Regions from separate parts of the Homo sapiens genome. Here all the other regions are linked to region 1. The links come from fine-mapping of genetic effects on gene expression. A gene starts in region 1. Each other region holds a variant in brackets. All regions are shown on one strand. Distances are between the middles of the regions. Region 1 holds the start of CXorf38 (chromosome X open reading frame 38). Region 2 has its middle 14 kb from the start of MED14OS. Region 3 overlaps MED14 (mediator complex subunit 14).

The links. PIP is the estimated chance that this variant, and not a neighbour inherited with it, causes the effect.
Region 2: its variant is the best candidate, but not a certain one, in a credible set for the expression of CXorf38 in whole blood (TOPMed, PIP 0.89).
Region 3: its variant is the best candidate, but not a certain one, in a credible set for the expression of CXorf38 in whole blood (TOPMed, PIP 0.77).

Annotation. Positions count from the first base shown.
Region 1 is chrX:40,645,700-40,650,055 of GRCh38, forward strand. It overlaps CXorf38 (chromosome X open reading frame 38), which reads right to left and starts at 1,862. Exons shown (of 7, transcript NM_144970.3): 1 at 1,606-1,862; 2 at 1,308-1,442. The coding sequence starts at 1,821. MED14 (mediator complex subunit 14) reads right to left here. Exons shown (of 31, transcript NM_004229.4): 31 at 2,606-4,356. RefSeq lists an enhancer at 1,043-1,242 and silencers at 1,493-1,642, 1,763-2,062, 1,898-2,078.
Region 2 is chrX:40,747,880-40,752,235 of GRCh38, forward strand. No RefSeq gene overlaps it. Among named protein-coding and RNA genes, the nearest start is that of MED14OS, 14 kb to the left of the region's middle. RefSeq lists enhancers at 1,941-2,020, 2,091-2,180. The variant G/A (reference allele first, on the strand shown) is at 2,027.
Region 3 is chrX:40,713,527-40,717,526 of GRCh38, forward strand. MED14 (mediator complex subunit 14) reads right to left here. Exons shown (of 31, transcript NM_004229.4): 4 at 1,011-1,184; 5 at 252-381. Among named protein-coding and RNA genes, the nearest start is that of MED14, 20 kb to the right of the region's middle. The variant A/G (reference allele first, on the strand shown) is at 2,081.

The DNA.
Region 1 (4,356 bases):
TCGACTTCCCAGGCTCCAGTGATCCTCTCACCTCAGCCTCCTGAGTAGCTGGGACTACAGGCATGCACCACCACACCCAGCTAATTTTTGTATTTTTTTGTAGAGACGGGGTTTTGCCATGTTATCCAGGGTGGTCTTGAACTCCTGAGCTCAAGCCATCCTCCCACCTTGGCCTCCCAAAGTGCTGGGATTACAGGCATGAGCCACCGCGCCCGGCCCCAATTCCTTTCATTTTTTTTTTTTTTTTTTTTTTTTTTTTTTTTTTTTTTTTTTTTTGAGACGGAGTCTCGTTCTGTCGCCCAGGCGGGAGTGCAGTGGCGCGATCTCCGCTCACTGCAAGCTCCGCCTCCCGGGTTCACGCCATTCTCCTGCCTCAGCCTCCCGAGTAGCTGGGACTACAGGCGCCCGCCACTGCGCCCGGCTAATTTTTTTGTATTTTTAGTAGAGACGGGGTTTCACCGTGGTCTCGATCTCCTGACCTCATGATCCGCCCGCCTCGGCCTCCCAAAGTGCTGGGATTACAGGCGTGAGCCACTGCGCCCGGCCGTCCTTTCATTTTTGAGATTGGGGAGCACAAGCTGGCCCAGTGTCACACCACGGCAGCTGATCCAGGACTCAGATCATCTGCTTCCCAGGCACTGCTCCTTTCCAGTGCCCACCCTGTGCCTGCTGATAACTACTGGCATGTAGACTGACTGCTAAAGTCAATTTGTGTTAGGAAGCCACTTCTGGCTGTCCCTCTCCGTCCCTTACTGGGCAAAAAAATTTCCTACTCGATCTACTTAGTAAGTGACATTGCCAAGATCTGAAGACAGATCCGGCTGCCTACCCCATTCCCAGCTACCCAAAGTGCCTTTAACTGGGCACTTAAGGTGCTATTTTAGCCCTAACTTCCCTTGGCTTACTCTGTCATCCTTACGGCATCCTATAGCCAAAAAAGAGCTGATGAGCTGTTCAGCGAGCCTTACCCTCAAACAGGCCACACAAGAGTCTCCCTCCCTCCCTGCCTGTGCTCATGATGCTCGCTCTGCATCTTGCCCCAGTATCTCTTGTAGAACTCTTTCCTGTAACTTTCCAAGCAGGGGTAACAAACTCAAATGCCCTCAGGAAGCAGACGGGTAGAAGAAAGCTTCTACTTCACTAAGCTGGGTTGGGTCCCGCATACCACCCCTGAACCGCCTAGACCCTTGATCAATCTCTCTCTCTGCATCTGTTTATGAGGCCCCGGCGACCACAAGACCAGATAGCCACCCCGAGTGCTGGGTGACCCGCCGCTTCCTCCTTCCGTCCCCGCCTCAGGCGCTTACCTTGGCCACCTCCCAGGCGTCCACGGGCCAGCGGCCCGGCCGGCAGTTTCCCCAGTGCACATCTCCATTTCTGTTGACATGATGTCTCAAAATCTCCCTTTTCCATTCAGCGCACACCTGACACTGAGGCTGAAACTACAGGGGGCGGCGGTGAGGAGGGGCCCAGGAGGGAGGGACGTCGCGGTGGGCCCCGCATCGCGGAGGGAACAGGACACTTGCGCTCTGGGTCTGGGACAGGAACGGGGATGAGGAGGGGTGGGGTGGGGGCGGTGGTCAAGGCCCCGAGCCAGGTGCTCACCTGGCGGGCGCGAGGGCTGCACCGTGAGCCGCCGCGGCAGACGGCGCGGGGCCCCAGGCCGGGGGCTGCGGCGAGTAGGCCGCGGTGGAAGGAGAGCACCTCGCGGCCGACGAAACCCTGCAGGCAGCTGCGCAGCAGTAACAGGCAGTGGCCCGCCTTCACCCAGTTCTTGTACTCGGCGCAGTTGAGGCGCGCCGCTAGCTCCGACAGCACCATGTCTCCCACTTGGAACCAGGAGGTTGCGGGGCGTGGCGGACGGCAGTGCGCAGGCGCGGAGCCTGGGAAGTACCCGAGGCAGCGGCGCCTGCGCCGGCGGCAGCGACGCCTGCGCCTGCGCGGCGCGGTGCCACCGATCCCGGGGCGGGGCATCTTGACTTCCGGGGCACGTCGGCTCCACCCCACTTGGGTGACGTCTGACGTCTGACGTCTAACAACTTTGGTGCTTGGGGAAGCAGTTAACTATTTGAAACCCTTAGGCCCTCTTCGTCCCCCAAACAGAGACCCTGTCAGCATCCGATTCGACTCCCTCTCCTAATGTAGGGCACTTCTGTTTTAACTTTTTTTTATTGTCCAGATGTACAAGGTGCTCAGGGCACATTGCTTGAATCGTGTATGTTCTTTGCATTATACAATTCTAGAGTTACTGGTTCCTAAGCCCACAGACCAGCTGTAGCAAATTGAGGTATTAGTGAAACGTGACCGCTGGCTGCCTGCGGTGTGCCAAGCTAACCCAAAACTCAAAATCCCCCGCCACTGGACCACCCAGAAGGGGGCGTTTGCCTGTTTAGGGCAACACATCACTTGGATTCTAGAAGGCTGCACACCTGAGCCAGATAAGGGCATCCTGAAGCACCTAGCAAAGGTTAGACGATAATTATCTAGTATTCTTGATTATATGATAATTAGTGCTCCTTGCACATGGAAGTCTGATTTAAGTTCCAAAGAAGTGCCACAAAGGTCAGAAGGCACTGGGATTGTCAACTCCAAGTGACAAGTCAGGTCAGTTTTAGTTGTTTTTAATGAGCTTTCTGAGCTTGGAAAACATGTCAAAATTGTGTGTAGTTAAAAGCCTCTGAGGAAAGAGTCTAAACATTAAACCTTCCCGACTGTGGTTCACAGCAAAAATGTCCAGTGTTTAGGAGCACTAGCTCAGACTCAAACTGCCCCTTCTTAGCAGTTTGATCTTAAGCAACCTTAATTTGATCTCAGGCAAATTACATTTCTCTGGGCCTCCATTTACTCATTTTTAAGAAGAGGATATCAATAACCTACCACATTGGGTTGTTGTGAGGATTAAATACACATTGAAATATTAAGAAAATGCCTAGCACACAGTAAGCTCTCAGTAAATACTTGCTATTATTTTATATTGACCTAAATATGCCCTTTCATCAATCAGTTATATTCTTGGGCAAGGTATTTTAACAAATCACTGGCCACTTGGAAGTGGAGGCAACTTGCAGAAAATTGTGAGCATACCATGGAGTTCCTGGAGTTGTGCAGCACAGTGCTGGCTGGCCTCTGCTAACTTTGTCTTAATAACCTCAATGCTAAATCCATCCTAAGTAAATTTAAATCACATCCTTAGACACACTGTCCATTCTCAAACCGAATGAAAAAAAAATTCCACAAGAAACAATGAAATACACATTAACATTTTCCCTCTATGTCCCTTGAATGTAAGTTCTCTTAAAATTTTCTGTATACTGATTTTATATCAAGAACACTTGGATGATAAATAAACATTAAGGTAAAATGTAATAGGCACTTCTTTTGGGGGGAAAAACTATGAAAGGAACAACTTTTTATATTGAAATTGCATCAGAATCCAGGGTAGCAAAGTTATAACTTCTTGAAGTTATCAAATTAACCACAGTCCAAAGAATGGCTGTTAGTATCCTTTGGCTGAACAGATTACTGTGTTAATTAGAACACAGTTATTAGTGGTTCTTAAATTCAAAGTCATATAAATTTTAGTTTATGCTTGCACTTAACTCACTCAGTTAATTTTCAAACATAAGGTTCGACTCCTGTTATTAGCGACTTGACACGTTCTGCTGAAGCTCTCACTTTTCTTCTAATTCTGAAAGTACTTTTATACATTCTGAAATGGCATTTCAGCAGATGGAAAAATGAAGGTGGCAAATCAGGACCAATTTCTTATTTCAAGGTTAAATTAATACTAAACCAGACTATTAATGAAAACATCTTCATCAAAATTAACTAGAGAGTTGGTAGTTCTCTGAAACTTTGTATAAATTTTATTTATTACTGTAAATACTAAAATCACATTGAAAACACCTTAAAGTTAAGTCCCAACCCGATTATTAGAGAAAATCACTTGGGCATCCAGTCCCCTTGATCGAACCTGGGTAACAAAAGAGGCAAAAGACATGATTTGTGATGAAACTTACTATTCAAATGCTAAATGTTTTCAAGCTTTAATAAGGTATATATCAATTCCAAGTACCAAGCATAATATAAAAATTCAAATTCATGGGTTTACTCTTAATAAGCATCAAAAGCAAATTTTGCGCACTGAATCCTATCTTACTCTTGATTGGCACAATGCATTCAGAGATGAGTTATAATTAGGAAAAAAGAGTGTCCACTGAATGCATCATGTGTAAAAATGCAATTAACATTTCAAAACCACATTAAAAGGGAAAATACCTAAAAAGTTAACTCTTAATAAAATTATTTGAAACAATATTATCCTGCAGATAAAAATACATTTCTTGTATATACATG
Region 2 (4,356 bases), 100 kb after region 1:
CATTTACACACATATTTGTTTCCACATCTGTCTCTCTCTCTCTCTCTCTCTCTCTCTCTCTCTCTCTCTCTCTCTATATATATATATATATATATATATTAAAGCCATGAGTTCATACTGATACCTCATATTTCAATCCAACACCAGAGGTTCATTCTAGTCTTCCCCCTTTCCATATTTGTAACTTCCTTTTCTGACAGTGAACAATCTGGCTCAATATACTTATTTGCTCAATCCTAGAATACATAGAAAGTCGTTTCAGAATAGATAATCTATACCATTGTGAAAAACTAGCCTTCTGGGTTTGGAGGACAGTGGCAATACTGCCTCATTCTGAATCTCCCTACTCACCCCTCTCTCCACAAATAAACCTCATGAAATAAAGCAACATATGACTGATATAGTTTAGCTGTGTCCCCATCCAAATCTCATCTTGAATTGTAGCTCCCACAATTCCCACGTGTCATGGGAGGGACCTGGTGGGAGGTAATTGAATCATGGGGGTGGGTCTTTCTTGTGCTGTTCTCATGATAGTGAATAAGTCTCACGAGATCTGATGGTTTTGTAAGGGGGAGTTTCCCTGCACAAGTTCTCTCTCATCTGCTGCCATGTAAGATGTGCCTTTCACCTTCCACCATGATTGTGAGGCCTCCCCAGCCACATGGAACTGTTGAGTCCATTAAACCTCTTTTTCTTTATAAATTACCCAGTCTCAGGTATGTCTTTATCAGCATCACGAAAATGGACTAATACAGTGACTTATTCCTTCATCAGTATTTGGTAAAAGAGAATATTCTGATGTTTAAATTACTTGTAAGCAAAGAAATAAACCAAATTCTAATAGAGCTCCTGCCATCTGCCTGCTGCTGCACGCCTGTGGGTGCAGAGTGCAGAGGAGAAGAGGCGTAAAGAAATGCCATGAAAAAATATAGTGGGGCATAGAGGACTTGGATAAGGCACGGACAAAATAACCCTTAGAAAGAGAAAGCCAGATAAGATAAATGCCAAAATATAGAATATAGGTCAGGATATGGTAAGTTCATGTTAGTTTGTTATGCAACGATAGAAAACGAATATGGATTTTAGTACCTGAAAGTGTGGTGCTGCTATAAGAAATACTTAAAAATGTGGAAGTGTCTTTGGAACCAAGTTTGAAGAGGATTTTGTGGAGCATGATAACAGCCTAAGTTGCCTTGAACAGAATGTTAGTAGAAATATGGACTATGGGAAGGCGGCTGGTGAGGCCTCAGAAGGAAGTGAGGCTCATGTTATAAGAATCTGGAGGAAGTGAGATCCTTGTTATGTATTGGCAGCAAGCTTAGCAAAACTGAAACTTGTGTCCTGCAGTTATTTGGAAGGTAGAATTTGAAAGCAATGAACTCACATATTTAGCTGAAAAGATTTCCAAGTAAAGTTGTTTTTGCTTGTTGTTTTTTTTTTGGTTTTTTTTTGTTTTTTAGAGGCAGGGTCTCCCTCTGTTGCCCAGGCAGGAGTGCAGTGGTGCAATTATGGCTCACTGCAGCCTCAAACTCCTGGGCTCAAATGATCCTCCTGCCTCAGCCTCCTGAGTAACTGGGACTACAGGCACGTGCCACAACACCTGGCTAATTTATTTTTATTTTTATAGAGATGGGGTCTCACTGGATTGGTCAAGTAAAGTGTTGAAGGTGCCATCTAGTTTCTTCTTGCCGATTATAGTAAAACCCAAGAAGAGAGTGACAAATTGAGGAAAGGACTGTTAAACACAAAGGAATTGGGTAATTCTCAGCATATCAAGATTGACGAAGACACTAAAATTAAGAGACAAAAGGTTAGAGTATTTGATCACAAGAGGTTTATGCTGTGCCTCACAGATCTCATTCAAATCAGTGGCTTCTAGGAAGCTTAAGGGTGTCCCTGAGCCATCTCAGCAGCAGCCAAAGCTAGAGAAGGAATGATCTCTACCAGATTTGTGGACATGGCTTCTGTTCAATGTAGTGAATTCCTATGACATCCACTCAAAGCAGACAAGGTTCTTGAGAAATTT[G/A]TATCAGCAGAAATACTGCCAGCTTGGACTGAAAGTGACAGAGTTTGAAGTGAAAGGAAGCTGTCAAACTCCCAGAATTCCTCTGGCAGAAAGGAGGTTGATAAAACTACTCAGCTGTAAACACATTCTACCTTTCATGAAAAAAGGACGGCTCAGAGAGAGGAACTGAAAGCCCAGGGGGCACAGGCGAGAGCCAGAGGGCAGAACTGAAAGGCACGTGGAATTATTTCCAAGTCTTGAAACCCAAGGGAGTTTCCCAGCTTTTAAAACTGCTTTGGACTGGTGATCCTTTTTACCTTCCATTTTCCTCCCTTTTGAACTAGAATGTCTGTAACTCTTACCCTATGCCTGTTCCATCATCATGTGTTGGCAATAGATAACTTGTTTCTACAGTTTCATAGGTCCACAGATGGAGAGAAATTGTGCCAGGCGTCTCACCCACACCTAATCTAAGTGATTTGATGATGAGATATTGGATTTTTGAATTCATGAGATTTAGATGAGAGTTTGGACTTTGAGTTTAAGCTGTAATGGTATTGACACCCTTGGCAAATTTGGGAGAAGGTGAATGTATTTTGCATTTAGGAGAGACATGAATCATTGGGGGCCAGAGGGCAGACTGTGGTAAACAGAATTGTTCTTTTTATTTTTTTATTTTTCTTTTGAGACAGGGTCTTGCTGGGTCGCCTAGACTGGAGTGCAGTGGCGTGATCATAGCTCACTGCAACCTCGAACTCCTGGGTTCAAGTGATCCTCCCTCCTCAGCCTTCTGAGTACTGGGACTACAGGCATGCATCAACACACCTGGCTAATTAAAAAAAAAAAAAAACTGTAGAAACAGGAGTCTCCCTGTGTTGACCAGGCTGGTCTCGAACTCCTGGCCTCAAGTGATCCTCTTGCCTCAGCCTCTCGTAGTGTTGGGATTACAGGCATGAGCCACCTTGCCTGACCTTGATGTTTGATATATGTTTACATTGTGGAACGATTAAATCAAGCAAATTAACAAATTCACCACCTCAACTACTTAAACATCTCCGCTTTCCATGTCTACCCCTCTCCTCCAGCCTCTGGGAATTGCCATTGTACTCTCTACTTGTATGAATTTGACTTTTTAAAATTTCACATGTAGGTGAGATGGTGTGATATTTGTCTTTCTGTGCCTGGCTTATTTCACTTAACATAATGTCCTCCATGTTCATCCATGTTGTCACATGTGACAGAATTTTATTCTTTTTAAAGGCTGAATAGTATTCCATTGTGTATATATACCACATTTTAAAAAATCCATTCATCCATTGATGGACACTTACCTTGCTTTCAAATCTTACCCTCTGTGAATAATGCTGCAATGAACATGGGAGTACAGATATCCACTTTGACATACTGATTTTAATTCCTTTGGATTCCTTTTTTTTGAGACAGAGTCTCTCTCTGTCACCCAGGCTGGAGTGAAGTGGCGCGATCCTGGCTCACTGCAAGCTCCACCTCCTGGGTTCACGCCATTCTCCTGCCTCAGCCTCCCGAGTAGCTGGGACTACAGGCGCTCGCCACCACGCCTGGCTAATTTTTTTGTATTTTTAGTAGAGACAGGGTTTCACTGTGTTAGCCAGGATTGGATTCCTTTTAATCCCAGTAGTGGGATTGCTGGATCATATGGTAGTTCTATTTATTGTGGGGCTTTTTGAGGAAATTCCATAATATTTTTCATAATGGCTATATTAATTTATATTTCCACCAACAGTGTACAAGCATTCCCTTTTCTCTACACCCTTGTTAACACTTATTATCTTTTGTTTTTCTGATAATAATTCTATTATCACCTATTCTATTATAGATTTCATGATATTCTATCATATCACCTCACATTCGGGTGTAAGATGATATTTCCATTGTGCTTTTAATTTACATTTCCCTGATGATTAGGGATGATAAGTGTTTTTCATATATCTGTTGAACATTGGTGTATCTGTTTTTGAGAAATGTCAAGTCATTGGTCCGTGTTTTAACTAGTTTGTTTTTTTTTCTTGCTATTGAGTTGTTTGAGTTCCTTATTTTGGATATTAGTTTCTTGTCAGATGTATGGTTTGCAAATATTTTCTCCCAGTCCTTGAGTTGTCTCTTCATCCTGTTAATGGTTTCCTTTGCTGTGTGGAAGCTTTTTAATTTGATCCAATCCCATTTGTTTATTTTTGCTTTTGTTGCCTTTGCTTTTGGGGCTATTGTGGAGCATTTCCCCCATGTTGTGGAGCATTTTCCCCCATGTGTTCTTCCAGTAGTTTTACAGTTTCAAGCTTTATGTTTAAGTCTTTAATCCGCTTTGAGTTGATTTT
Region 3 (4,000 bases), 68 kb after region 1:
CTGCCTCCCAGGTTCAAGCAATTCTCATGCCTCAGCCACCCGAATAGCTGGGATTACAGGTGCGGGCCACCGCACCCAGCTAATTTTTGTATTTTTAGTAGAGATGGGGTTTCACCATGTTGGCCAGGCTGGTCTCAAACTCCTGACCTCAAGTGATCTGCCTGCCTCAGTCTCCCAAAGTGCTGAGATTACAGGCATGAGCCACCGCACCTGGCCATCAACTCTTAAAAAAATAAATTTCAGATACATACCAACTGTAAGATTTGCTAACTGAGGAGGAAGATCTGTGGTTACAAGCCGATGTCTAAGAATCTGATTCAGCTGATGGAGTGTGGCTTGTTTTTCAATTTTGGTAATTGGGTCTGGAGGAATAATTTTGTCCTGCAAAAAAATTTAAGTGATTTTTAAATAATGTACAAACGGGGATTTTTTTTTTCAATCTTTTCCTGTCTTTATACAGTGTTGCGTACTTTACCTAAGAGAATCTTAACACTCATTTCTGCAGTCTACTTACAAAAACAATGGCCATTACTATCATGCATAAGAGCAACAATGATTCTAGTCATTTAGCTAAGATCATAATACAACATGACCTCCCTTAATGCTCTATTTATAAACCAACTAAATATCACTTGATAGCTTCCACAAGTTCTTACAAGTATAAAATACAATATGGCACCAAGTCAGTAAACTACCAAAACAATAAAAGTTTAAAACACTTTCAAAAAGCAACTAGCATGTAGCATTTTCACATCTGAAATAGATGTTATGTCTGCACATCCGCGCATCCCTGGGGGAAAAAAAAATAAAACCTTCACCCATTTTGATATCTACTCACATCTGGCCCCAACTTATTTCAAAAAAGCACAACTTTAGTTACAGAGAAAAAAAGCAAACTATATGTACTGTTTGTTTTAACAATGTTTTTTGCTGGGCTACTTAATAATACAATCCAATCCAGTGCCAAAACCTTTAGTTTTTAGGAACATGGGGGCAAGCAAAGAACTTACCCTAATGCAGGTTGGCAGCCGTGGGTAAGATCCAGTAGTTAGTACATCAATGGCATATGGGATGGCAAAACTAGGCAGGCGTGCATGGACCAGAGCATCTCTAGCTAACGAGGCCAGGCGATCAGCAGTGTCCACAAACAGGATGGCTTGCTGATCTAAAAAGCTTGAAATCATCTTTAAAGTAAAGGGTAAATGTATTAAGCATCCCTGAAAACTATCTCCTTTTCACACTAAATATTGTTAAATCATTCCAAAGTAAACTTCAAGGGGAATTAGTATCAGTTTTCCATATTTCAAAGTAGTTCTTCAAATATTCTCCAGTAACTTGAAGAAGAAATATTTAATACACTAGTATTTGATATTAAGAGCAATAATTTTCTGTCACTTTAAGTAAAAGCTTTCTAATTCATTTCTCCATCCTTAACATTACACACACATAATATCAAAGTTAGGAAAAATAAGTAGAATAAAATGGTTTTTTCCTCTTACAGACTTCCAGAGTTGGTTGGTAATGAAGGAGTTAAAAGCATGGACTCCTAGACCTAGACTGCCTTGTTCTCCATTTTAACTCTGCTACTTACCAGTCTTGTAACCTTGGGCAAGTAACTTAACCTCTTTGTGCCTCAGCTTTTTTCAACTGTAAAATGGAGGTGATCATGATTCCCAATCTCATAAAGTTGTTCTCTGTATTAAGAGATAATGCAAAATAGAGAACACAGAAATCCACACATAGCCAACTCATTTTCCAAAAAAGCACCAAGAACATACACTGGGGAAAGGACAGTTTCTTTAATAAATGGTGATGGGAAAACTCGATAACCATCATATGCAAAAGAATGAAACTAGACCCCCATCTCTCACACTATACAAAAATGAACTGAAAATGAATTAAAGGCTTAAGCATGAGACCTGAGACTATGAAACTACTAGAAGAAAGCATTGGAAAAATGCTCTAAGACATTGGCCTGGGCTGGGTGCGGTGGCTCAGGTCTGTAATCCCAGCACTTTGGGAGGCCAAGGTGGGCAGGTCACGAGGTCAGGAGATTGAGACCATTCTGGCTAACATGATG[A/G]AACCCTGTCTCTACTAAAAATACAAAAAATTAGCTGGGCGCGGTGGCACGAGCCTGTAGTCCCAGCTACTCGGGAGGCTGAGGCAGGAGAATTGCTTGAACCCGGAAGGCGGAGGTTGCAGTGAGCCAAGATCGTGCCACTGCACTCCAGCCTGGGCGGTAGAGCGAGACTCCGTCTCAAAAAAAAAAAAAAAAAAAAAAAAAAAGGACAGACAACAAAAGCAAAAATAAACAAAAGAGATTATATCAAGCTAAAAAGCTTCTGCACAACAAAAGAAATAATCAACAGTGTGAAGAGACCACCCACAGAATGGGAGAAAATGTCTGCAAAATATCCATCTGACAAGGGATTAATATCCAGAATACATAAGGAACTCAACTCAATAGCAAAATAAAACCAAATAACTCCATTTAAAAAATGAGCAAAATACCTGAATAGACATTTCTCAAAAGAAGACATACAAATGGCCAAAAGGTATTATGAAAAAATGCAACATTACTAATCATCAAGGAAATGTAAATAAAAACCACAATGAGATATCATCTCACCCCAGTTAAAATGACTATTATCAAAAAGACAAAAAATAACAGATGCTTGTGAGGATGTGGAAGAAGGGGAACCCTCACGCTGTTGGTGGGAATGTGAAGTACTACAGCCACTACAGAGAACACTATGGAGGTTCCTCAAAAAAAAACTAAAAATAGGCTGTGTGTGGTGGCTCACATATGTAATCCTAGCATTTGGGGAGACAGAGGCAGGAGGATTGCTTGAGCCCAGGACTTGCAGACCAACCTGGACAACATAGGGAGACCCTGTCTCTACAAAAAATTAAAAAACAAAAAAATTAGCCTGGCATAGTGGTGTATGCCTGTGGTCTCACAGCTACTAGGGAGGATCACTTGAGCCCAGGAGGTTGACGCTGCAAAGAGCCATGACTGTGCCACTGCACTCCAGTCTGGGTGACAGAATGAGACCCTGTCTCAAAAAAAAAAAAAAACCACTAACAACTAAAAATATAATTACCATATGATCCAGCAATTCCACTGCTGAGTATATATATATTCAAGAGAAAGGAAATCAGCATACCAAAAAGATATCTGCACTCCCAGGTTTACTGCAGCACTACTCACAATAGCCAAGATACAGAATCAACCCAAGTGTCCATCAACAGATGAATAAAGAAAATACAGTACATATACACAATGGAATACTATTCAGCCATAAAAAAGAATGAAAGCCTGCCGTTTGCAACAGCACGTATGGAAGTGAAGGTCACTATGGTAAGTGAAATAAGCCAGGCACAGAAAGACAAGTATTGCACATTCTCTCTCCTATGTGGGAGTTAAAAAAGTGGATAACATGGAAGTAGAGAGTAGAATGCTGGTTAGGAGAAGCTGGGAAGGGGGGAGGAGGTATGAAGAAAAGTTGGTACAAAAATATAGTTAAAAGGAATAAGTTCCAGTATTTAATAGTAGAGTAGGGAAATTATAATTAACAATAATTTATTGTATATTCAAAACGACCAGAAGAGAAGAACTGTAACATTCCCAACACAAAGAAAAATGTCTGAGGTAATTAATATCCCAATTATCCTGCTTTGATCACTATGTACATGTATCAAAATATCACATGTACCCTCAAAATATGTACAACTATGATATATCAATTGAAAAAAAAAAGAGTTAACACATAAAAAACCTTTAGAACAGTGCCTAGAAAGAACATAGAAAACACTCCAAAACACCCATTATGAGATACAGGTCAACTTCATGCCCAATACAGAAATCCTTTCCATCAGTTTTCTACCCAATGCATTTCATAAGGATACCTAAACTAGTAGAGCTCATCACAGAGCTAAAAACTACCTCCCTAAAACCTTTATCTTCTAGTTCATGGTTTTTTTGTTGTTGTTGTTTCAT